Regions from separate parts of the Homo sapiens genome. Here all the other regions are linked to region 3. A link means that fine-mapping ties the variant in region 3 to the plasma level of a protein whose gene starts in the linked region. Region 3 holds a variant in brackets. A gene starts in each other region. All regions are shown on their reverse strands.

Region 1 (8,179 bases), not on the chromosome of region 3:
TGTAATCTCAGCACTTGGGTGGACTGCTTGGGCTCAGGAGTTTGAGACCAGCCTGGGCAATATGGTGAAACCCCATCTCTACATAAAGATGCAAACAAAAATTAGCCAGGCATGGTGCTGCACAGATGTAGTCCCAGCTACTCGGGAGGCTAAGGTGGGAGAATTGCTTGAGCCCAGGTGACGGAGGTTGCAGTGAGCTGAGATTGCGCCACTGCACTCCAGCCTGAGTAACAGAGCAAGACTCTGTCTCAAGAAGAAGAAAAAAAAAGCAAATTAAATAAAAACAATAAAAACCTAAAATTATTTTCATATAATTTTCAAGCGTTCTTTTCTTTCTAAGATATTCAATGTTTCTATTAAAAATAAAAAGAAATATAATCATTGACTATCGAAGTTTTAAGACAAAATGATCTAAATGAACCTGAAAATCTTGTCATTTTTTTGAAAATTTTGTTAAATCTCATAAAATTTTGTTATAGGCTGGGTGTAGTGGCTCATGCCTGTAATCCCAGCACTTTGGGAGGCCAAGGTAGGAGGATTGCTTGAGCCCAAGAATTCAAGGCCAGCCTGGGCAACATAGGGAGACCTTATCTGTACAAAAAAATTTTAAAATTAGCTGGGCGTGGTGGTGCACGGATGTGGTCCCAGCTACTTGGGAGGCTGAGGTGGGGGGATCGATTGAACCAGGGAGGTCGAGGCTGCAGTGAGTTATGATCACACAACTGCACTCCAGCCTGGGTGATACAATGACACCCTATCTCAACAAATATAAATAAATAAATAAAATATTATAAAAATGAAACTATTTACAAGTCTAGTAGCCAATGTAAAGAACTGTCATTATGTGTTACGCTCATTACATCTAGACCTACATATATATGCTTTAAAGAACACTATGGGGCCGGGTGAAGTGGTTCACGCCTGTAATCCCAGCACTTTGGGAGGCCGAGGCAGGTGGATCACCTGAGGTCAGAAGTTCGAGACCAGCTTGGCCAATATGGTGAAACCCCGTCTCTACTAGCTGGACATGGTGGCGGGTGCTTGTAATCCCAGCTATTTGGGAGGCTGAGGCAGGAGAATCACTTGAACCCGGGAGGCAGAGGTTGCAGTGAGCCAAGATTGTGCCATTGCACTCCAGCCTGGGCAACAGGAGCAAAACTCTGTCTCAAACAAACAAACAAAAAACCACTATGAACTGTGTAATATACGAAAATATTTCTCAGCTATTGCAACTGTCAGAATACCATGCTAATTCTGGAGTGCCCCCAGAACTGTGAGGTGAAACACAGACATCAGGACGCTCAGCGCTACCAGGTCCTTTATACTATCTGAGTAGATATACTTGACAAATAGAATAAGCCCCCTTTCTTCACCGGGAAGCCCTTCCATAGCTCAAATCCTCCTAGTACTCCAAAGCAGTGTCCACCTCCAAGGTCAGTGGCAGCACAGCCCACCAACCTTCATTTAATTCATATTTAGTTACCTTTGATTTTGAGAACACAGAGCAAGAGAAAGGGAAAAGCATTCTCTGTGGCCTGTGGATGGTTTTAATTACAAAAATGGGTAGAGTTACAGTCACACTTTGCCACTGCTGAAAGCCAGATCCCAAGAGAACAAAGCACCTACATATTCTTCTTCTTTTTTTTTTTTTTGAGACGGAGTCTCGCTCTGTCTCCTAGGCTGCAGTGTAGTGGCACAATCTCGGCTCACTGCAACCTCACTGCAACTTCTGCCTCCCGGGTTCAAGCAATTCTCTTGCCTCAGCCTCCCAAATAGCTTGGATTACAAGCACCCGCCACCAAGCCACCTGGGTGAGCTTGTTGGATGAGAATGGGGGCACCCTAGGCTTAGTCTGCCTGGGAGGTTGAGACTAAGAGGGAGTTGAGCTGCTCTGCATGACAATAGGAGGACTCTCGAGCCTGTTGAGGCACTCGGCTCTAGAGAGGAGGGGAGAGATGACGAATGAAGAAAAAGGAAGGCTGTGACAATCGCATGTACAGAGAGGAGCCTCATGAACACAGCAGGACACAGAAAGTCCTTGGAGATGGGGCCTAGCCAATAATTTTCAAAGAATGGGGAGGTTAAACCTTGAATGTGGACTTGTCTCCTGCTCTGTGCTGCAATCCCTCTGCCCCACACAATCCCTTGGGTGAGTGATGGAGGAATAATAGAAGATGGTGGTGTCAAGCTCAGAATGAGGTTGTAGGAGTGATAGGCCAGAGAGTGCCAGCAAGGGTGGAGAGGCCACAGCAGAATTGACTTTGGAGAAATGAGAGCCATCCTACTATTCTTTTCCCAGGGATAAACAGTCCTCTGAGATGTTGGAGAGGGCTTTGGACTTCCTGCAGAACATAGGCCTCAGTTTCTCTTGCTTTGCTTTGCTTTTTAATGTGAAGGAAAAGAGAGCCGTCTGGGAGAGCTGCAGACTTACAGCCCTTGGATCCGGCCTCTGGGTGGGCAGGGAGGCCTCTCCCCTGGGCTGCAGCTGGACTCAGCCTCCATGCATATTCAGGTATCCACAGGGCACTAAAAGCCTCTGGATCTTCTGGACCCAGAAAAGTTTGGGTCCAGGACGGCAAACTTCATATGTTAGTTTCCCCTGTTGGCCGCTGGTTTTGAACTCTTGACATCAAGTGATCTGCCCGCCTCGGCCTCCCAAAGTGCTGGGATTACAGGTGTGAGCCACTGCGCCCAGCCAGTAACAGTTGTTTCTACAGGATTATACTTGACCTGCATGAATGGAGCTTGCTTTTTCACAGAATCCTAGGAAATCTCCTTGGAGTTGGGAACAATTGGACACATCTCTCAGTCCAACTGATGCTTACCTGGCTCGCTCCCATCTTGATGGGATGGTGTGTTTCCTTCATCTACATGAGGCAGCTCTTGGGGTGTCTCCCAAGGTCCAGGTTCTGCCCTTAGTGTTGTGCAGAGAATGTTGGTGTTTCCCCTTAGCTCCTCGAAGACAGACCAGGTATCCTCTACCACCACCACCACTCTTTTCTAAGAAAACCTTCCCAGGGCTTCCTTCAGTTCCCCATAGTAAATGATGGTTGTTTTTTTTTTAACCCTTCTCTATCCTTGTCACCCTCTTTTGGGCCTATTTTAATGTGTGAAGGATTAGAGGAGGGGCCATCAGTCTTCTGGTTAACCACATGTAGGGTCTACTTTACTGGAGGTGATAATCCAACAACCCACCAAATTCTCCTCTTGACTTCCTGTAAATTAAGTCATTGAACGTTTCCTAGATGGTGTGAAATACTCTCTCTCTCCCTCTCTCAGTCATCTAGCTAGCTCAGATGTCTTTAGATATGTTATGTTTGCTCCCTGCTGAAGCTGCATCTTCAGAGCTCCCTTTTGCTTCCTCAGCCCTTGACTGGGGCTGGGGCTGCCCCCCAGGCTTTCAGCTAAGGAGAAATCTTTCTTCTCTATCTTTGGCAATTCCAGCATCTCTGACTCCCTTAGTTCTTGGGGTAAGTGCAGAAGGGCCTTTCGACCTTGCTGTTTTGACTCCAGCACTTGACAGCAGGGACATTTGGACTCTGACATTCTGACTTCATTGTACACTCAGATTCTGTGTATTTGCCTTGGGAATTTTCCTCACACCAAGAAATCAATAAAAGCTAAGTCACTTAGCAATGAATAGTACTAGTAGAAATAATTGCTATAAATTAAACTGGCAGTAGCTAATGTAGCAAATTGTGAGGAAGATCTTTGGTTGGGTGAATAAAGTTTCAGAGGACAATATAATGACCCCAATGCAAGAAGATTGTGTTAAGTGAAAGATGTGGGAGCCTGGTGCTTCCTTCCCTACTTCTCCCAGTCCTTCACACACTAAAGCATGCCCCAGAGAGGATGACAAGGATGGATACGAATGGAGAACCACGTCATTCATTATAAGGAACTGTAGCAAGCCCTGGGAAGATTTTACTAGAAAATTAGAGGAGACTGGGCAGGATTTTGCCCGTAAGTATTAAAAAGCGGGGCTACATTGGTAGGGCTTGGTGGGAGGGATCCCAGAGCAAAGAACTCTGGAGCCATTGAGGAGGAAGGTTGACAGAAGAAAGGGCCAAGAAGAGAGACCTGGGAACGACTGTTAATGACTGTTAACGTTAAATATATATATATATATATATATATATATATTTTTTTTTTTTTTTTTTTTTTTTTTTTTTGAGACAGGGTCTTGCTTTGTCACCCAGGCTGGAGTGCAGTGGCACAATCTTGGCTCACTGGAGACTGTTAAATATTCTAATACCACCAAATTCTTTATCTCATTCAGTCCTCATAGCAATGTAAGAGGAGGATATTATGATCATTATCCCCACTGAAGCCCAGCATGGTTGGGTGCTTGCTGGGGTCTCACTGGAAGCCACACAGCACAAACTCTGCCCAGAGTTTCATTGATTACCCTGTGTGATGTGGCATCCATTCCATTGGCCTCCCAGAGATAGCTCCACAAACTCTCAGAAAAGACTGGAATAGAGAGCTGTGCCAGTGGGCAAACCTCCCCTGTTCTAGCTGTTCTGGGACAGGGCTCAGGGCAGGGCCTGTAGACACCTGGCTTCGTCCATCCCAGGAAAACAAAGTTGGAAAATTCCTGTCTGTCCCTGCCCTGGTGGCCACATGTCCTGCCTCTGTGGCTGGGCCGGGGACAAGCGTGTAGGCTTCAGGTACAGGGCTTCCTAAGTCAAGGGTTTCAGGTCGCACTGGAAAATCATTTTGCAAGCAGATGTCATAGGTCTCCTCTTAGACTGGACGGCACGCAAGGTCAGCGTCAGCAGATCTGACCCTAAAAATAGGCCTCTGTTGCCAGTGGGGGTGGCTGGGCGTGCGGCTGCTACATGCCCCACGGACCAGAACCTCCCGACGCGGCCAGGCCCCGGCACACCCAGGTAAGGCCGCTGGGTGGGGAGGCCGGCACCCCTTGGGTTCACCCACGTGTTCTTTGGGGGCCTGGGTGTGGGGATTAGAAGCCCCTTTTCCACCCTGTTCCTGGTGCTGTGGGGAATAGCCGACCTCCTTCTAGTGTGAAAGGTTTCTTGCTGTCCTTTTACGAGAGACACCATGGAATTTTCTCCATTTCCCTTTCTCCAAATCTGAACTTCCAGTTCAACGACCATTTCTAAAGGATAATGGGGTGGATTAAAGCTCATCGAGCCCTTGTGAAGCATTGGATGTATTGTATCATATTCCACATTCCAACGAGGTTCTACGTTTGTCCATTTAGCCAGTAAAGGGGGAGAAATCTCGGGGGCGAGAGAGAGAGAGGCCCTGGAGTGACTCGGATCCTGTGTAGGGCAGCATCAAAGACAAGAAAGTACTTAAAGCTCCAGGGATGAGAATTCTCCCTGTGTCCCAGGTAACACAAAAGCGTCATTTGGACAGAGTGGCGGGTTTGGGAGCATTTCTCAGTCCTGGTGGGAGGATGGGGTTGGGGATGACGCTGCCGTGGTAGAGATGGGGGGTGGGACTGGGTCATGAAGGATCAGAGCCACTGGACCAAGAGTGTAGGCTGTACCGCGTGTGGGCAGGAGGCGGGATGGGCCTGTGTCTCAGACCTGTGTGGGCAGGAAGTGGGACGGGCCTGCGTCTCAGACCAGGGCTCTCCCATTAGACCCTGGTGCCCTTGTGCTGTGACCCCAGGGGTCCCTTCATGGGCCTGGAACCCAAGAACAGTTGGGCCCGGGGGCTCTGATCGTTCGGGAAAGCGGAAAATGCTCCAGCGAACAGGAGGAAGGGCACGAGGAGGATGTCTGGAGAGGTTGCCACACTCACGGCCGCCAGCACCTGAGGGTCCCTGGCCCTGGATGTTTTTTCCGCTGCCCCCACCTTTAGCTTGTGATCCCTCCTTGTTCTCATCATGAGAATATCATTTGGTCCCACCGACAAATCCGAGGACTCTGACATTAATAAACAACACTTGAAGGGCTTCTGAGCTGAGTTCTTAACAAGGAAGGCGCGTTGGGCATGGAGGCTGGGGTGGACATGGGGTGGGTCTGAGGAGAGTTAGTGGGAGTGAAACAGGAAAGGTTCCTTTGTCCCTCTCACAGGGCATGCGACGGGGGTGTGGCTCGCTTGTTCAGTACCCAGCTGCTCAGACCTCTAGAGGAGCATACAGACGGGCAGGCTGTGGGGCTCTGACCCCATGGCAGTGTCTAGGGGTGAATGTTTACAGCTGAAGCCCCAGTGGGTGTGTGTTACAGGGTGCTCTTTTAGTTTGCTGTCTATAGGCGGCTTGTGTTAACTGGCTCAATTAGACCTCCTTCCTTATCACAAGGACAGAGGGATTTCTGTATCCTGGGGTTTCTTGCCTTGGTGTAGGGGAAGAATCAGATCACATGTGGGCTTGGAGAAGAGTGCAAGGTTTTATTGAGTAGAAGTAGCTCTCAGCAGATGGGGGAGCCAGAAGGGAGACAGTTTTTCCCTGGAGTTGGGCCACTCAGCAGCCGACTCTTCTCCTCCAACCGCTCTGGCCAAACTCCGCATCATTCCGCTTGTCAATGGCCTGCAGGCCTGCCAGTGCCTGTCGGCGTGATCTTCTGCCGGCGCGCTTTTGACAACCAGCCGCTTGTGTCTTCTGCCTATGTGTTCCTCAGTACGTCCAGCCGGTTGTGTGTCTCAGGTTTTTATAGGCACAGGATTGGGGTGTGGCGGGCCAGGGTGGTCTTGGAAAATATAACATTTGGGTGCGAAGGCAGGAGTGCCTGTCCTCACCTGGGTCTGTGGAGGTGGAGCCCTGGCCAGGGACCTGCCTTTCTCTACCCAGCACTTCCTGGCCCTCCTCCGGTATCAGGATCTCACTTGGCTCTGAAGGATCTTCATGGGCAAAGGCAGATCTGCGCTGAGGGTGAGGAGAGAGCCAGTGGTCCTCTGCCATCAGACAAACTGGAGCCCTTACTGGGGACATTTCAGTCATGGCTGACACCTGGGTTGGGTGGGAACCTGGTCCTGTCTGCGGGTGGCACTCCCGTGGCTGTTGTTGACCCCACAGTAGATGAGGGGCTTAGGGGAGGCCCTGAGGCCAGGGGCTGGGCTGTGAGCATCTTCCAGCAGCCCCAGGGAGGCCCAGTTGAGTCCACCAGGGTGGGGGTGAGCAGCCTCCACCAAGCCTTCCCCAGACACTGCGGCCCCGAGGCCTGGCGGTGTTTCCTGTGCTATGTGTCTGGCACTGTTCCAAGAGCTTTCCTGACAAGCAGGAATCATTTATTCCTCAGAATTGCAGCAGCTTAATGAGGGATGGACAGCACAGCCCCATTTCAGATTGGACACGGAGACACAAATACTAAGTGTTCTGCCCAAGGTCATGCAGCCTAAACAGGGGCAGAGGCCAGAACCCAGCGTGCCTCAGAGTTTCGGGGTGTAGCCCCTTTGCTCTGGTGCCTCTCATTGGGGTAGAGGCCTGGTGGCATCTCACTCTCCTACTCCTCTCAACCCCTAAACTCCAACCAGGGCCCCTGTCTCAGGGAGGCCCGGCCTGGAAACAGCCACTCCAGGTTCCTGGGCCAGGAGTTAGCTGTTTGTCCTCTTCGGCCTGATTTCAGAGCAGATGGTGTTTTAATCTCCTCTTCTGGTGACCATTCACGTTTCTGGGCCTACCCGTTCCACAGTAACGAGGGGGTCAGATCTCCTAGCAGCCTGACACAGCGACCAGAGGCTGACTAGCTGGGGAGAGTCCTTTCTCCTACTCTCTTGCATGTCACGCAGGAGGCGATGGGTCCTGTCACCCACAGGACAATGCTCAGGCTCACATGAGTCCATCTCCTCCGCCACAGCTTCCCTACCAAGACCTCCGCCCCGGCCAAACTGCTCCACCCACTCTTTCCTATTCTCGGTTGGGAACACAACTCCCAGTACAGCTGGGAATTCCCCACCCACCCTCCAGGCCGCCTCCTTGTCTCTGCTCCCTGAAACCCTCTTTGAGCTCATGCGGATGTGCCAAGGGCTTACATTATCTCATTTAATTCAGCAACCAGTGAGGTGCAAGTTATCCCCATTTGACAGATGAGGAAGCCGAAGCCCAGGTAGTGAGATTCCAAGGCCCATAAGAGCTGCTTGCTGCAAATTTACATGACTGTGTGCTCCACTCTAGGGAGGGAAGCATACAGAATTGAGAGGCCCAGGCATGCCCTCAGGAGCTTATACTTTGTGACCAAGAATATAGTGAAGTATCTATTGTGGT
Region 2 (8,179 bases), not on the chromosome of region 3:
AGACTGCAGCCACCAAAAGTCAGCTGGGGTTGGGCCTGCAGGCTGGCGCTCCTCTCGACTGGTGGGCTGAGCCTGGCGGAACCTGTTTATATACCTGTGAACATCAGGGGATAGGAGGTGAGTGGAGTGAGGAGAGCCAAATAATAATAAGAATAATTATAGCAGCCAACGTTTACCAAGCACCATGGCAGAGCCTGGTAGCTATCCCTCAATATCTGCTTTTCTTTCTTATATAGTCACATAACTGTTTTTGAGACAGGGTCTCGCTCTGTCACCCAGGCTGGAGGGCAGTGGTGCAATCATAGCTCACTGCAGCCCCCAACTCCTGGGCTCAAGAAATCCTCTCTCCTCAGCCTCCTGGGTAGCTGGGACACAGGTGCATGCCACCACACTCGGCTACTTTTTGTATTTTTATTTATTTATTTATTTGTAATTAATTAGTTTATTTTTTGAGACGGAGTTTTGCTCTTGTTGCCCAGGTTAGAGTGCAATGGCGTGATCTTGGCTCACTGCAACCTCTGCCTCCTGGTTCAAGTGATTCTTCTGCCTCAGCCTCCCAAGTCACTGGGATTACAGGCATGCACCACCACGCCCGGCTAATTTGGTAGAGACGGAGTTTCACCATGTTGGTCAGGCTGGTCTCAAACTCCTGATCTCAGGTGATCCACCCACTTTGGCCTCCCAAAGTGCTGGAATTACAGGCGTGAGCCACTGCAGCCCTGCCAATTTTTGTATTTTTAGTAGAAACGGGGTCTTGCCATGTTGCCCAGGCTGGTCAGGAACTCCTGGGCTTAAGGGATCCTGCCACTTTGGCTTCCCAAAGTGCTGGGATTACAGGAATGAGTCACTGTGCCCAGCCAGGAATGTAACTTTTAGCTGGGCACACAGCCAGTCTCCTATGGACTATATTTACCAGGTACCCTTGTAGCCTTGTGACCACGTGACTAAGTTCTTGACAAACAGGGTATGAAATGTGATTTTGGAAAGCTGATGTGGTTGAAAGCCATTTTGCACCATGAAGGAAAGGGCAACGGCCTAGAGTTCGGACAGCAACAAGACAGAAGTAACCTGTGTCCCTGACACCTCAACTACGGGTTGCCACATCATCCCTGGTGGCTTCTGCCTGGACTGCAGGTGAGGGAGGAATAAATTCTATCTTGTTTCAGCCATAATTAATTTGGGACTCTTTGTTACAGCAGCTGAACCTGTATTCTACAAATCTAAGTGGTGACTATGTGAGAAGCACTGCTAGAGATCATTATATATAGTAACTCACTGAAAGCTCAAAACAGCCCTAGGGGATGTGTACTATTAATATGCCCAATTTAGGCCTGGCAGTGGCTCACACCTGTAATCCCAGAACTTTGGGAGGCTGAGGCAGGTGGATCACCTGAGGTCAGGAGTTTGAGACCAGCCTGGCCAACATGGTGAAACCCCATCTCTACTAAAAATACACAAAATTAACCAGGTGTGGTGGTGGGCACCTGTAATCCCAGCTACTTGGGAGGCTGAGGCAGGAGAATCACTTGAACCCAGAAGGGAGAGGTTGCAGTAAGCCGAGATCATGCCACTGCATTCCAACTTGGGCAACAAGAGTGAAACTCCATCAAAAAAACAAAAACAAAAACAAAACAAAACAAAACACCCAATTTAGAGATAAATAAACTGAGGCTGGGCATGGTACGTCTGGCCTGTAATCACAGCACTTTTTGGAGGCCAAGGTGGGAGGTTTGCTGGGTGTGGTGGCATGCATCGTAATCCCAGCAACTCAGGAGGCTGAGGTGGGAGGACGGCTTGAGCCCAGGAGTTTGAGGTTATAGTGAGCTGTGATTGTACCACTGACCTCCAGCCTGAGTAACAGAGCGAGACCCTGTCTCTAAACAAATAAATAAATAAATAAAAAGAGATAAAGAAACTGAGGCCAAGATCATACAGAGAGTTAAATGACAGAGCTGGGATTTGAACTCAGGCAGTCTAGCACCAGAGTTCTTAACACACATAAACTGCCTGGTCCTAAAAGAGTGCTGCAGAAACAGCTCTGGCCATGATGATTATTACTGCATGCCTTCTCCCTCCCTCTAACCCAAAGCCTCTTTTTCCCCCAGGGCTGCTGGTACTTACTTGGCCACCACGGAGTCCCCGCTGTCAATCAGGGTGGGTGCTGGGGAGGCCCACATCTGTCCCTCAGTGGTGCTGGGCAGGGAGGGGGTCCCTGAACTGGATGGCCAGGACTCCTCAAACAGCTCAGGGGAGTTGGGACCTGTGGCTAGAGCCTTGGGAGCTTGTGGGAGCCTGGATCTCTGAGACCTGGATGGGCTCAGGGTCTAAGATCAGGGAAGAGCACAAGAAGAAAAAGTGTGAGGTCTCATGGGTCATCCCTGCAGGGGAACCAGGACACACACAAAGTCTCAGTCCAGAGGGGAGGAAACACATCCTGTAATGATAACAACCTAGTGTGATGGGGGCTCAGATGGGGAATCCAGGTGGTAGAGAGGGGGACAAGGGCAGGGCCGTGGGGAGGGGACAAGGGGCTGTCTCTTAAATCTCTCATCCCTATCTCTCATCACATGTCTTCCTACCCTCTAAAGGTCATTCTCTTGCTACTGGGCTGGCACTCAGCACTCTTTGAGGGGTGTCCTCACCTTGGGACACCAGGTCTGGCTCTGGGATGGCCAGTAGTGGCTTCGACCCAGGGGCGCATCTCCAAAGGGACTATCTTGAATGGAGAAAACTGGCAGGCTGCAAGAGGAAAGTGGGGTTCAGGCAGCACGTGGTTTCGCCGCAGCCCTGGGGAGGGGGACATTAGAGGAGGGCAGAACCAGACAATTCCCATAGATTCCTGGAGGAGACGGACTGTCATTTCCATGAAGCACCGTTGCACATTCAGGATATCGACAGTGGAAGGGTGAGTCCTGGGAGCCCGCCCCTGGAGCAGTCTTAACAGGGAGCAACTCAGGAACTGACAGCCGGTGGTTCTCAACCCTGGATCCAGTCTAGGAGGGGCTTTTCAACGTTACAGGCGCGCGGTTCCCATTCCAGACCAACAGAATCAGAATATCTATTAGTGGGGCTGGGCCTCCGTGTCTTTTCCGCAGCGTCCCAGGTGATTGCGAAGTGGAGTTCAGGTTAAGAATCGCGGCTCGCCGGGCGTGGTGGCTCACGCCTGTAATCCCAGCACTTTGGGATTACACCGAGGCGGGTGGATCACTTGAGGTCAGGTGTTCGAGACCAGCCTTACTAACATGGCGAAACCCCGTCTCTACTAAAAATATAAAAAATTAGCCAGGCGCGGTGGCAGGTGCCTGTAGTCCCAGCTACCTGGGAGGCTGAGGCATGAGAATTGCTTTAACCCGGGGGCAGAGGTTGCAGTAGCCAAGATTGTGCCACTGCACTCCAGTCTGGGCCAACAGAGCGAGAGACTCTGTCTTAAAAAAAAAGAAAGAAAGAAAGAACCGCGGCTGGATTATATCACCGAGCATTTCCCATACATTCCTGGGGGACACGAAGGCAAAGGGTAGATGGACTACAAGCCCCAGGATCCACTGGGCTCCGCCTCCGCGAGAAAGTTCAAAGACAACGCCCAGGCGTGTCTGGGGGCCATTTCAAAATGAAGAAATTCAGATCTCAAGCCTTTCTTGGACACCTTTAGAGGCAATAATTCCTTGGGGCCCACTCAGAGAGGAACATAAGACTCTTAGGGGACCCCCGGGATGCTAACGGCTACGGCTGGAGAGGCCAACGGCTGTGGAGCATGTTGGGAATTGTAGTTCCAGTGCGGTGGAGCCCTAGCGACTCCAGACCGTATCCAGCCCGTCCTAGGCTGTGCTGCTCTCGCCGTTGGTCCTCCCCAGCCTCCTGTAGTCCCTGGAAGAGCGATCGGCCTCACCTGCGGTCCATCCCGCGGCTCCCTCCGCGCTTCCGGCCGCTCTGCTCCTTCACCCAACAGGCCCCGCGCGCATCTCCGTCGCTTAGCAACGCCCTATCAGCCCCGCCCCTCTCTGTGCCCGCGCCGGAGGCGAGCGGCCTCCAAGGCGACCAATGAAAGAGAGGAAACAGAAGTACCCGGAGGGAGGTGTTTCAGGATTGGCTGGGACGACTGCCTGCCCGACAGGGCGTGTTTGATTGGAGAACCTGCCGAGTGTAGCAGTAATTGGCAAGACCGTGCACCAATGGGAAGGATCTGAGGCTGGGCTTGCGGTTAGGAGGTGATCTAAAGTACCCTCGCTTAAAAGTCCCGCTTTTTAAGCGCCTTCTTGCTGCAGAAGTCCTGTCCCGACCCCGGTCTAACTACCATTCTTTCTGTTGCAGGGGCAGTGGGGCGGGTTGGGGGGGGGGCGCGCTCTGCCCTCTCTCTAACCGCTATTCCTCCATCAGTTGGGCCAATCAGTCCGTCCCAACGGTCATCTAACTTCTTTCTTGCTGCAGGAGCAGCTGGTTGCATCAGTTGCCAGGTCTGGGCTCCTGGCCGAGGTAGCGGGATCAAAATGAGCTATTTCCAGCCCCAGCGCGCGGCCCCCGGGGGGCCAGCCTGAACTGTTCATGCTCGCGCCCCCTGGCCTCTGCGCACCAGAGGCTGAGTCAGAGGCACAGAATTAGGCCCGGCCTGCCGGGGGACTGGGCCCAAGGTCTGGCTGAGGATAAGGGTAGGGAGGGCCTGTTCTATGTCCTCCTGACATCCTGGCGGGGCTACCGCATTCTCCAGGAATCTGCTCCTAAAGACCTCCATCTGCGTCATCCTCAGAGCTGCCAGGGGGGAGGCAGTGGATTAAAGGGACTGGAAACTCTTCCGTGGGCCTCTTGGGTCCTGGGCCCCAATCACCACGCTGTGCTCCCCACACCCGCAAGGCTCCCCCTCCTCAGCCTTAGTTTCCTCTTCTGGAAATTGGGGAATCTTCATGTCACCTTCTTGACAGCATTTGCCAGGCATCCAGCAGGCGCTTAATAAATGGCCAAGTCATTGTTTGGGTTTCTAAATAAGGCTCTCCTAATGGCCGGGTCTGGCCACGGTCCCAGTGTCCCTGGGCAGCCCTCCGAGGGGCCGGCACAGGGCGCACTATAAATGAGCGGCTGCGCACGCAGGGGCACTGCAACGCGGAGGAGCAGGATGGAGATCCCTGTGCCTGTGCAGCCGTCTTGGCTGCGCCGCGCCTCGGCCCCGTTGCCCGGACTTTCGGCGCCCGGACGCCTCTTTGACCAGCGCTTCGGCGAGGGGCTGCTGGAGGCCGAGCTGGCTGCGCTCTGCCCCACCACGCTCGCCCCCTACTACCTGCGCGCACCCAGCGTGGCGCTGCCCGTCGCCCAGGTGCCAGGCCTGGGGAGGGGTGAACTCGACCACTTCCATTGCCAGGGGTCTGGGGCAGCCTGGGGTGGGAACATGTGAGAGAATGTTCGTTGGCCTTGGGCGGGGTGGAGAGTCCGCAGCTCCGAAGGGCTTCCGGAGTCAATGGGAATCTGAGGCCCGCACACTGCAGCGGGTGGGAGGTCCCCGTCGCTCTTAGGTGGGGGGCGGGGTGGGGGGCTCTCAGCTCTCCAGAGAATGGAAGGCCTGGGTCACTCTAAGGGGAGTCTTGCTTACTCTGAAGGAGGCTGGTGATCCGGGAAATCTGGGGAAAAGGAGGCGGGCAGTGACTCCTGAGGGGAAGGAATGTTCTTAGTCTCGGGGAAGAGTTGAGAGACTGTGTGCGGTGGCCCGATATCTCCAGAAGAGGAGGGGAGAGGGCCCTGCGACTTGAGGAAGGGTTCCCGGCCACTCTGAAGTGGGGGAAGGCTACCAGTAGCTGCCGAGGTCCCGTGACTCGAGTGGGAGAGTAGGCAGAGGACCCTGGAGACGGGGAAAGGGGCATCTTGGCGAGTTTGGCGGGGCTGGCGGAGAAGGGACCCGGGGCTCTGAGGAGGGAGCTGGGGAATCAGTGCCCTGGGGGGCACGATGACTTCGGATTCGCTGACACCGGGGGAGGGCAGAGGTTCCTGACCTTGCAGGGGAAGGGAGCCTCATCACTGCGGGGGAGAGGGCAATCCCAGATATTACAGGGGGAGGGCGTATCCCTGTTGTTCAGGGTGAAGAGGTCCTGGGTGACTCCCAGTAGGAGAGCTGACTGCTCAACTCCGGAGGCCAGAGTGAGCCGCGGCACGGAACCGACGGGGGTGGGGTCTCCCTGGGTGGGTCCTGGAGCCTGGCCCAGCCCAATGACAGTCCCGCCCGCGCCCGCTGCGCTCAGGTGCCGACGGACCCCGGCCACTTTTCGGTGCTGCTAGACGTGAAGCACTTCTCGCCGGAGGAAATTGCTGTCAAGGTGGTGGGCGAACACGTGGAGGTGCACGCGCGCCACGAGGAGCGCCCGGTGAGCCGCGGCGTGGGGCGGGGCTGGAGCGGGTACGCTCGCCGCCGGGCCGGAGGGGCGGGGCCGCTCAAGCCTCCCTCCCCTCCAGGATGAGCACGGATTCGTCGCGCGCGAGTTCCACCGTCGCTACCGCCTGCCGCCTGGCGTGGATCCGGCTGCCGTGACGTCCGCGCTGTCCCCCGAGGGCGTCCTGTCCATCCAGGCCGCACCAGCGTCGGCCCAGGCCCCACCGCCAGCCGCAGCCAAGTAGGAGGGGGCTGGGCCGCGCCCGCACCCCGGGAGCCTCCTCAGGCTCCCTCTATTAAAGCCGATCTGACTCCGCCCAGCCAGATGTCCCGAGTGCGCCAAGGACTGTCCTCTCACCCACTCCTGGATTCTGCCCTGACCTCCATCCTGGACACTGCCTTGATAACATAGACCCTTCCACTGACACCCTCGCTCTCACACCCCCTCCAGCTTTCCGACCCCACACCGACAACTCCCCGGCTTCCAGACCCTACCAGCACTACCCTAACCCTCAGCCGACAGTCTCAGCCCCACCGACCCACTTTCTTGGCATATAGCCCCACTTAAGACCCCTCCTCTACTTCCTTCTGAGTCCTCTACAAAGACATCCGGGTACTACATTTCCATCCCTTCCCTATTTTGACACCAAATTATGGTGTAGACAGCCCTCCCCCAACCCCAGGCCAGTCAGGCACAATCCCCCCACCCCCCAAACGTCCTGGACTGCACAGACCTCCCACTCCAGACCATCCAGGCCTGGTTCCCAAGACCCGATCCTTCCCCTGCAACCAGACAGTCTACAACTGCCCCCTCCAGCCCATTTTCTGCCGTGAAACCCCAGCCAGCCACACCAGACTCTGGAACCCTTTTTCGACTGCCCCAACTCTTGGACACCAGGCCAACTAGAACACCCAACACCAAACTGTACAGACTCTCCCACCCCAACCTCCCCAGACTCTGCACGGATGTCCTAGGCCCCCTCCCCAACTCTAACCAGACCCCATCCCCCTAAGTCCCTTTGTCTTGACCCCCAAGTCTTCAACCAGATATCCTCGGCAACCCACCTCCCACCCTCCTCCTCTTCTCCTTCAAGACCCAACTGAGCACCCGCTCTGATTCCCCACAGCCTTTCTCCCTGCCACCACTCCCTTAGTCTTTCCCAGGCTTACTCTCCCAATAAATGTGCTAGAGCTCTGCCAACTGCTTTGTGCCTGGGCCAGGAAGGAGGGACCGGAGCAGACACCAGTGTGGAGCTGGGGGATGTTTACTGGTGTGGGGGGACCTGGGAACATCACTGTCGTTCGTACATCTCTCGTAGGATCTTCATGCTTTCTGAGTAACGAAGCTGGTTCCGATGAGAGGCCTCCTTCCACCTGGGGAGGCAGAGGGGAGACTCAGCAGTTGCAAAGGGCCCTACGAGGGGCAAGCAGGCTGGGGGACGCTCACCTCTGGCGGATGCGTTTCCAGCGCTGCATGTTGCGATAGATGAGTGTGGAGGGTGAGGGCTCGGGCTCAGAGGGCTGCATGGACAGACAGGCCAGGTTGAGTGGCCATTCCTGAGCCCTACCGCATGTGCCCCATAACCCTGGGCCAGCCTGGCATACTCACCTCATCGTCAGGGGTGCCCTGCATCTCAGGCTGCAGTGGAGATGGGATGCGGGATCTGCAGGCATCTCCGGGTGGCCCCGGGGGTGTGGGTGGCGGCAGCTTGTACACATCACGACTCTTGCTGTTGGTTACCTCTGAGCCCTGGGGACACAAGGGCCCCATGCCAGGCCCAAGAGAGTCAAAGCAGAGGGGCTGGGAATCCACATTCATCCCTCCTGCCTTTC
Region 3 (8,179 bases):
AAATTAACTAGCCACCTCCCATTTCACTGAAGTCAAGGAAGATCTGCAGATGGATGTTAAGGCAAGTTCAGAATGATAGGATGTATGTAGATGGGTTGTTTAGTCAGCAGAGAAAAGAAGTGATGGGTACTCTGAAAACATATTACATCTGTAATTATGTAACTATTTGTTTTCTACTATCTCTGCCATTGTTCTGTGAGGACAAGAACCATGTATCTTCTACTTATCACTGCATCCACCAGAGACAAGCATAGGGCATGACACATATATATTCACTGATTGATGGGCAGTTGAATTTCTCCTTCATTGTTTTGCCCTTTGATAGTTTCTTGCATGGTTAGCATATCTACCCAACTAGATAGTAGTTATGTGAAAGCAGAAATCATATCTTCTATTCCTCTAAAATCCTTTCTAATGGTCTTCTGTTCAAATCAGTGTTGATATCTGTAGGATGTTAGGTTGTGAATTTGGAAAAAAAAAGTAAAGGAAAAGATAGAGAAAGAAGAGTGTTAGTGAAGAGTTGTGATGATTTTTCCACAGTATAGTTCTAAATACACATTGAACTATATGGAATTGCCAAATGTGACTATTTTTGGCATATTTCATCTCAATTTCATTTGATTCCATCTAACTACTGGAGAAACCAAACCAAATAAAACAAAAACACATGGCAATTAGGGTGGGCAAACTGGAGTTTACATCATAGCTCTGCCACTTGCTAGCTTTAGAATCCTGTATAAGCTTCCAATACTTACTGGGCTTCAGTTTAGAAATGGGCATAAGACCATTTTGGAGGGTGGTTGTGAAGATTGGATGAGCTGAGGGCTCTGAAATTCTCTAACCCATTACGGATGTTTCACTTCCCAATTATCTTGTTCAAGTATCTTGATGTTTCATTGTCTCAATCTGCTCAACAAAATTGGTAAAATAAATTCAACAGGTTGTTATAAAAAATACAATTTAAAGCATTTTGCTATTTGATCCCCTCAATAATGCTATGAGGTAGTTATTGTTCCCATTTTACAAACAAGGAAACGTAAGTGTGGCTCATAGCTAATGCTCATAGCTATTACATTATACTATACTGTATTATACTATAGTTTTTATAGTGTTTAAAAATTCAATTTGTATAAAAATTTATACTGATTCAGACAACAAGATATGGAGCTAGTATAGGAGATAGAAAAAAGCATGGGGTGTGTGTGTGTGTGTGAGAGAGAGAGAGAGAGAGAGAGAGAGAGAGAGAGACTGAGAGGGAGGGTCTAAAGATGTCTGTGTCTGACTTGCGTCATCCATTTTTCTTTTCAATGCAGGAATAAGAAACTAGTATGTGTCATACTTCCTAAATCTTTGCATAACTAACCTTCATTTGGTAGGAGCATGAGGTGTTTATCTCTCAGTCAGTTTGCAGATCTATTCACACTATAAGTTTGACCATTTTGAATAAAAGAAGGGTAATAGTACAAGTTTGTATCTTTTTTTCCATTTAAGGAACTTCTGCTTAATCATTTTAACAAACTGATTTCAGTTCTGACTCTGATACTGTTCTAAGAGCTATAATGTATTAGCTCATTTAATTCTTTTTTTTTTTTTTTTTTTCTTGAGACGGAGTCTCGCACTGTCGCCCAGGCTGGGGTGCTGTGGCGCGATCTCGGCTCACTGCAAGCTCCGCCTCCCGGGTTCAAGCCATTCTCCTGCCTCAGCCTCCCGAGTAGCTGGGACTACAGGCGCCCGCCACCATGCCCGGCTAATTTTTTGTATTTTTAGCAGAGACAGGGTTTCACCGTGTTAGCCAGGATGGTCTCGATCTCCTGACCTCATGATCCGCCCGCCGCGGCCTCCCGAAATGCTGGAATTACAGGCGTGAGCCACCGCGCCCGGCCCTCATTTAATTCTTATAACAACCTCTTACAATAGATACTATTCCCTTGCCTTTTCAGATAAGGAAACTGTGGCACAGAGGGTTTTAGTAACTTGCTGAAGATCACACAGTTGGTATGTTCTAGAGCTAAGATTTTCACAGAGGTATATAGGCTCCAGAGGTCATGCCATTTCTCTCTGTGCTATTCTGCCTTCTAATGATTTATTAATTTTGTATATTATTAGCTGAAAACTCTTACTATCTGGCAGATGTGTTCTTATGAATAAATGATTACAGTTAATGTTATAGAAATACCCCTGAGGGTGCCCCAACAAAGATACTTCCCTAATTGCCACTAATTGCACGATTAAATTTTTATTCTTTTGAAACACAAATTACCTTCTTTAAGATGCATATGGTGTGTGAGAATATAAGGCTAGGTAAGAATGCTAGGATTGGAGAGGAGGAAAACGAATTCTGGAGCATTGGCTAATTGCTGGGCAGTTAAGACTGGATTTGATGACTTCTTAAGGGGAAGATAGAGGGGGAAAATACAGACTTTCCTATCAGGTTAGATAGTCACAACAATGAGATAGTTTGTATGAGTTCCAGTTTTTGAATGATGAAGCTGAAGATCAGAAAGGTTAAGGATTTTCCCATGGTCACATAGCTGCTAAGTAGCAGAGTATGGATTGGAAATATGGGTGTCAGACTCCGTATGTAAGTGCCATTTCTTCCATTACTCTGATTATCTTCTAGGGAAGGGGAGAAGTTGGTGAAGAGGTATATCTACAATCTTAAAAAGGAAAATAGGAGAGTATAGAGAAAAAATTCTTTCTAATTTTCTTAGGTGGCCTTGCTTTTGACTTTTCATTTATATTATTTTATTATAAATTGATGACAAGTTGTAGTCCTCTGTATTCTGCTTTACTTGAACATATTTTATTGATTGGCTGTGATGCATAAAGCATTGTACTTTTTGCTGTTTATGTCTGCAGTTTCAGTATAAGATGGGTAGGGGCAGAGGGATAAACACTTTATCCTTCTAATCGTTCAGGGAAACTACGATCTGATTAGGGAAATAATCAATACATGTTTTCCTGGACACAGACTACATTTTTGAACCTGGCATGCAAGGCTATTCCAAATTGAATCACAACTTTCTTGTTACCCTCAAAACTCTCTCCTCCTCACCTTGACCTCATCTGACAATTGTCTGGGAACATCCCGCTGCCTACTTAAGCCTTGGTGTTTTGGTAAGCAGAGTTTTTCGGATTTTTTTTTTTTTCAGTTGAGGGTGCCCTCCTACCATCTAACACAGATGCTAATTAGCCAGCAGCTGAGGGGAATCGGTCATATGACCTAGAGTTTGCCAATTAAATGTTCTCATTTATCTCTTTGAAATTGAGCAAATGATACAGGAATAAAAGGTCAGAATTAATTCATCATGGTGTTAGATGGGATCGAACAAGAGCCATGCTCAATCATGTCACAATGCCAGCAGGAATACTGAGGATAGTAGGGGGTCCTGGCTAGACTATTTCTGCCAAGAGATAGTTATTCTGCTTCCCGTTTCTGGGCCCATTGTCACTGCTTTGATTCCTGTCTCTCTCTCAAGCCTGGCCCTCTTATTAAACATTGAATCTTTGAGCCCTGATTGTCTTTTCCTAAGTCCCCCTGTGTTGCTGCAACCAAAATAGCTAATTGTCTATTCTCTGTTTTCAGACTGTGAAACCTTTTTCTCAAGCATCTTCTGGTATTCTCATTCAGAAGTGACTACTTTTCTTTGCGAAATGTGCTAGTTACTATGGAAAGTACATTAAAATGCAGATAAATGATTTGAAAGAATATTATTCTCTAAGAGTTTAGTATGGTATAGTATAGTATAAAATCTTTTTATAGTACAAGAAAAAGATATACTCTGAACTTAACTGGTGAAAATTTATTGTAAGTATTTAACAAGTGATCTTCTTGGGTGCCTGCCATTTTTCTCTTTCTTTCCCTTTTTTCTCTCCTCACTAATTCATTCACTAAATATCACTGAGCTGCTGCTTGGCATTGTTCTTGGCTCTGGGGATATAACAATGAACAAGGCAAATAAAGTCTTTATTCTAATGTAACTTCTTTTTTAGTGCCTAGGGAGAGAAAATAAACAGGTAAAAAAAATAAAATTATCATTTCAAAAAGTTATAGAAACAATATATCAGAGTAATGTGGAAAATTATTGGGTTGGGTACACGAGTGTGATTACATAGAGTTTACACAGGGATATTTAGGAAGGCTTCTCTGGGAAGATTATGTTTAAGCTGAAGTTTGAATGATAAAAAACCAATCTTACAAAGAATTGAAGAGGAGTAATCTAGGTAGAGAATGTAGTGCATGCAAAAGTCCTGAGGTAGGAATGAGCATATGTTTAAGTCCAGGAAAGGGACCAGCGTGAGGAACGTAGTAAGGTGTAAATGTCAGGAGAGGAAGAGGGGAAAGGGCCCTTTTACACAGGGTCTAATGGGTCGCTTTGAAAAGTTAAATTTTACTCTAATTTTTCATAGAACACTCTACCCCCATTCTGTATCTCTGGATTTCAACTTTCCTAATTGGTAAAGATCTAACTGAGTAGATTGTGCACCACCTTAGTTGCTTGTGTTAATTAAGAGAATGCTGACTTCTTCGACAGATAATCCTCAAAATCTTGGTCATTTAATACTGAGTGGAAGAAAAATGTATTTCTTACTCCACTAAATTCCCAAATGGTATTCCTGATTAGTGTTGGGGAGCTCTATTTTACTCAATCTGATGAAAAATCAGACCCAGACTGATGAAAAATTTACCATCATTAACACAAGGCTTTCATGTTTGCCCTGAAGGTAGAAATTTAGGCTGGGGTGGTGTATTAGTCTGTTCTTACAGACTAATACCTGTCTCAGGTATGCTAATAAAGACATACC[CG/G]AGACAGGGTAATTTATAAAGGAAAGAGGTTTAATTGACTCACAGTTCAGCATGGCTTGGGAGGCCTCAGAAAACTTACAATCAAGGCAGAGGGGGAAGCAAAGACATCCTTCTTAACATGGCAGCAGCAAGAAGTACAGAGTGAAGGTGGAGGAAAATCTTTTATAAAACCATCAGATCTCATTCTCAGCAAACTTTCGCAAGGAAAAAAACCAAACACCACATGTTCTCACTCATAGGTGGGAATTGAACAATGAGAACACTTGGACACAGGAAGGGGAACATCACACACCGAGACCTGTCATGCGATGGGGAGAGGGGGGAGGGATAGCATTAGGAGATATACCTAATGTAAAGGACGAGTTAATGGGTGCAGCACACCAACATGGCACATGTATACATATGTAACAAACCTGCACATTGGGCACATGTACCCTAGAACTTAGAGTATAAAAAAAAAAAAAAAAAACCATCAGATCCCGTGGGAACTCACTCACTATCAGGAGAACAGCCTGGAGGTAATCACCTCCATGATTCAATTACCTCCCACTGGGTCTCCCAGGACAGATGAGGATTGTAGGAGCTACAATTCAAGATGAGATTTGGGAGCGGGGACACAGCCAAACTGTATCAGGTGGGTTGGGGACTGTGCGGAGAGAGGAGAGCGTATGATCTTAAGGAAGGGTTTGATGGGCTAACTGGAAGTGATAAGCACCACTTTTCACATCCCTTTGGGTAGTTCAGTCTCATGGCCACACCAAACTGCCCAGGAAACTGGAAAATGTTGTCTAGATAATACCCAGGAAGAGAGGCAAATGGTTCACTCAGTCGTGGCCTGAATAATGAATTGCATGGAGCTGCCTAACTTGGTAGGTAGGCAGTGGAACACAGAGCAGTTGGCAGGCATTTTGAGCCTTCCTACCCCATAGGAATGGGGAGTGGGTAAAGAGAGAATGTGTTTTGTAAAATGAAATTCAAGTAAATTTTTTTTTCTAGAATAATACTAAAGTTTAGATAATACACACTGCAGAAAAATATAGTGATTCTCAATGGAAGTAACATTTCCACAGGGGAATTTAGTGGATTGAATAGTGTCTCCTTGAAAACATATGTCCAAGTCCTAGTCCCTAGGACCTGTGAATGTGACCTAATTTGAAAATAGGATCTTTATCATATATAAGTTAAGGATCTTGGGATGACATCATCCTGGAGTTGGAGGTCCCTGTACGTGGCCAAAAAATAAGTTCTCCCTTAACATTGTTTTCACTCAGTCTTTTTTACATACCCCCACATCCCTTCTCCCAGGAAAGTGTCTCCTCTTATCATTTGATGCCTCAAAGATTGTCTGTAAAACACGATCAAAATGTATTTTGTCAGTTCAGCTTCAGCCAGCATCTAGGCCCTGCTGCAACTTGCTCATCTCTCCCTCGTTGTAATCCAACAGCCGGAACGGAATGAACCTCTGTATACTTGTGATGATGTACACATCCAGTCAAGCTGAAGCTGCTGATGTCCCTGGAGGCCAAAGCAGGGTATTGAAAGGAAGGGAGGAGAATGATTCTCCCTCAGCTTTCTGGCAACTGAGGCTCAAAGTAGCAGTGCCAGTTCTTAGACTTTCACTAAGTCCCTCATGTGAGAGGGTCTGTCATGCTCTGGTCCTAACTCCTCTCTCCCTTAGTATCTCTCACACAATCTAATGTGCTTTGTGGCAGCAAACATGGTCCCATTGCCTGTACTCTCTTCATCTCTTCCATTGCCTCGGCACCTCTCTTACAAAAAAAAATAATAATAATAGGTTCTCCAGCCAAAACAAAAGCCCTATGTACAGTAATTTATATAAAGTGAACTCTTGGAAAGTGGGTGAAATATTATATACCCACAAATAGCTCCCCTCCAGGAAATGTATTCACTGCATAAGGAAAAACTAAAAAAAAAAAAAAAAAAAAAAAGAAGAAAATAATTTGCTATGTTATGGATGTGTTTTGTCCCTGCCAAAATTCACGTTGAAGTCAAATTGCCAGTGCAGCAGTGTTGGAAGGTAGGGCCTAGTGGGAGGCTTTTGGTTGGTGGTAGTAGATCCCTCATGAATAGATTAATGATGTCTCTGTCTCTCAGGAGTGAGTGAGTTCTTGCTTTCTTGAGAATAGATTAATTTTCACCAGAGTGCATTGTAAAGCACAATTTCTCCACTGTTTGGTCCCTCTTTGTACACATTCACTTTCCTTTCTGCTTTTCTGCCATGAGTTGAAGCAGCACGAGACCCTCACCAGAAACTGAGCAGATGCCTATGCCATACTCTTGGACTTTCTAGCCACCAGAATTGTGAGCCAAATAAACTTCTTAAAAAAAAATAAATTACCCAGCCTCAGGTAATTTGTTATAGCACCGCTCAATTATGAAGACAGGATTGTGGGCATAGAGCAAATATAAAGTTGTCAGAGATAAATGCCTCCTCCCCAAGGCTAGTCCTATTGTGCTCAGTAGTCTTCGAATTTGTACTCCAGCTTTCATATGACTTGTTATTATTTCTTATGCCTAGAGGAAGTCCACTTCTTTGTCTTGGGAGGGATATTAGTTGATGAGAAGTTTATAAGGCGTAGCTGCTGGGCTTTAGCCACAGGATTTGGGTTGAGAAGGAAAAGAATGGAATCTGGTGATTGCAGTATCCCCATGAAACAGGTATCAGGAGAGTTCCTAACACCCTCTTGGATTTAGTCTTCTGTACCTGTAGAGGATAAAAGCAGACCTGCTGAAAGAGAAGGGATGCCAACTGTAGCTAAGGAAAGAAACCAAGAACAATAGCAGAGGAAAAGGACAGTGAATTAAGCTTAAGGAATGAATTCAAGGTCAGAAACAGAGAACAGGAGCATGTTGTGGAATTAAGAGTGATATGTTGCTATGGTTTAAATGTGTCCCTCCCAAAGCTCATGTTGAAACTTAATCCTCAGTGCACCAGTTTTAAGAGGTGGGGTCCTTAGGAGGTGATTAGGCAATAAGGGTTCTGCCCTCATGAATGGATTAGTGTCTTTATCAAAGGGCTTGGGGAAGGGAGTTTGGTCTGTTTTGCATTTCTTCCATGTAAGGACATCTAGACAGTGCCATCCATGAGAAATGAGCCCTCACTAGATCCTGAATTTACCAGCAATTTAATGTTGGCTTTCCTAGCCTCCAGAATTGTGAAAAATAAATTTTTGTTCTTTATAAATTACTCAGCCTCAGGTATTTTGTTATAGCAGTACAAATGGCCTAAGACATAAATCAAATATACATAGATGCTATTTATTCATTTGCTACGGCTACTATAACAAAATACTGCTGACTGCGTGGCTCGAACAACATAAATTTATTGTCTCACAATGTCTCACAGTTCTG

Direction of the effects. Alleles are on the strand shown, and positions count from the first base shown. The strength of an association depends on the size of the effect and on how common the allele is.
In carriers of allele G in region 3, the plasma level of the protein whose gene starts at base 4,819 in region 1 tends to be higher than with CG alone (weak association).
For the plasma level of the protein whose gene starts at base 5,084 in region 2, allele CG in region 3 goes with a lower level than allele G (weak association).

What was found. A credible set is the group of variants that fine-mapping cannot tell apart. PIP is the posterior inclusion probability: the model's chance that the variant is causal. The UK Biobank Pharma Proteomics Project read protein levels with antibody pairs (Olink). The fine-mapping took linkage between variants from a reference panel, not from the people measured, so its PIPs are less certain.
Region 1: DUSP29 starts here. The variant in region 3 is the best candidate, but not a certain one, in a credible set for the plasma level of the DUSP29 protein (UK Biobank, PIP 0.69).
Region 2: HSPB6 starts here. The variant in region 3 is the best candidate, but not a certain one, in a credible set for the plasma level of the HSPB6 protein (UK Biobank, PIP 0.62).

The regions. Positions count from the first base shown.
Region 1 is chr10:75,070,282-75,078,460 of GRCh38, reverse strand. DUSP29 (dual specificity phosphatase 29) reads left to right here and starts at 4,819. Exons shown (of 4, transcript NM_001003892.3): 1 at 4,819-4,892. RefSeq lists an enhancer at 1,613-2,196.
Region 2 is chr19:35,753,934-35,762,112 of GRCh38, reverse strand. HSPB6 (heat shock protein family B (small) member 6) reads left to right here and starts at 5,084. Exons shown (of 3, transcript NM_144617.3): 1 at 5,084-5,302; 2 at 6,219-6,341; 3 at 6,430-7,547. The coding sequence starts at 5,105. The coding sequence ends at 6,591. LIN37 (lin-37 DREAM MuvB core complex component) reads right to left here. Exons shown (of 9, transcript NM_019104.3): 7 at 7,956-8,096; 8 at 7,794-7,867; 9 at 7,594-7,720. The coding sequence ends at 7,639. PROSER3 (proline and serine rich 3) reads right to left here and starts at 3,937. Exons shown (of 11, transcript NM_001367856.1): 1 at 3,887-3,937; 2 at 2,643-2,739; 3 at 2,122-2,324; 4 at 1-94. The coding sequence starts at 3,897. RefSeq lists enhancers at 3,593-3,652, 3,693-3,932, 4,261-4,832.
Region 3 is chr11:22,175,523-22,183,701 of GRCh38, reverse strand. No RefSeq gene overlaps it. Among named protein-coding and RNA genes, the nearest start is that of ANO5, 13 kb to the left of the region's middle. The variant CG/G (reference allele first, on the strand shown) is at 4,807.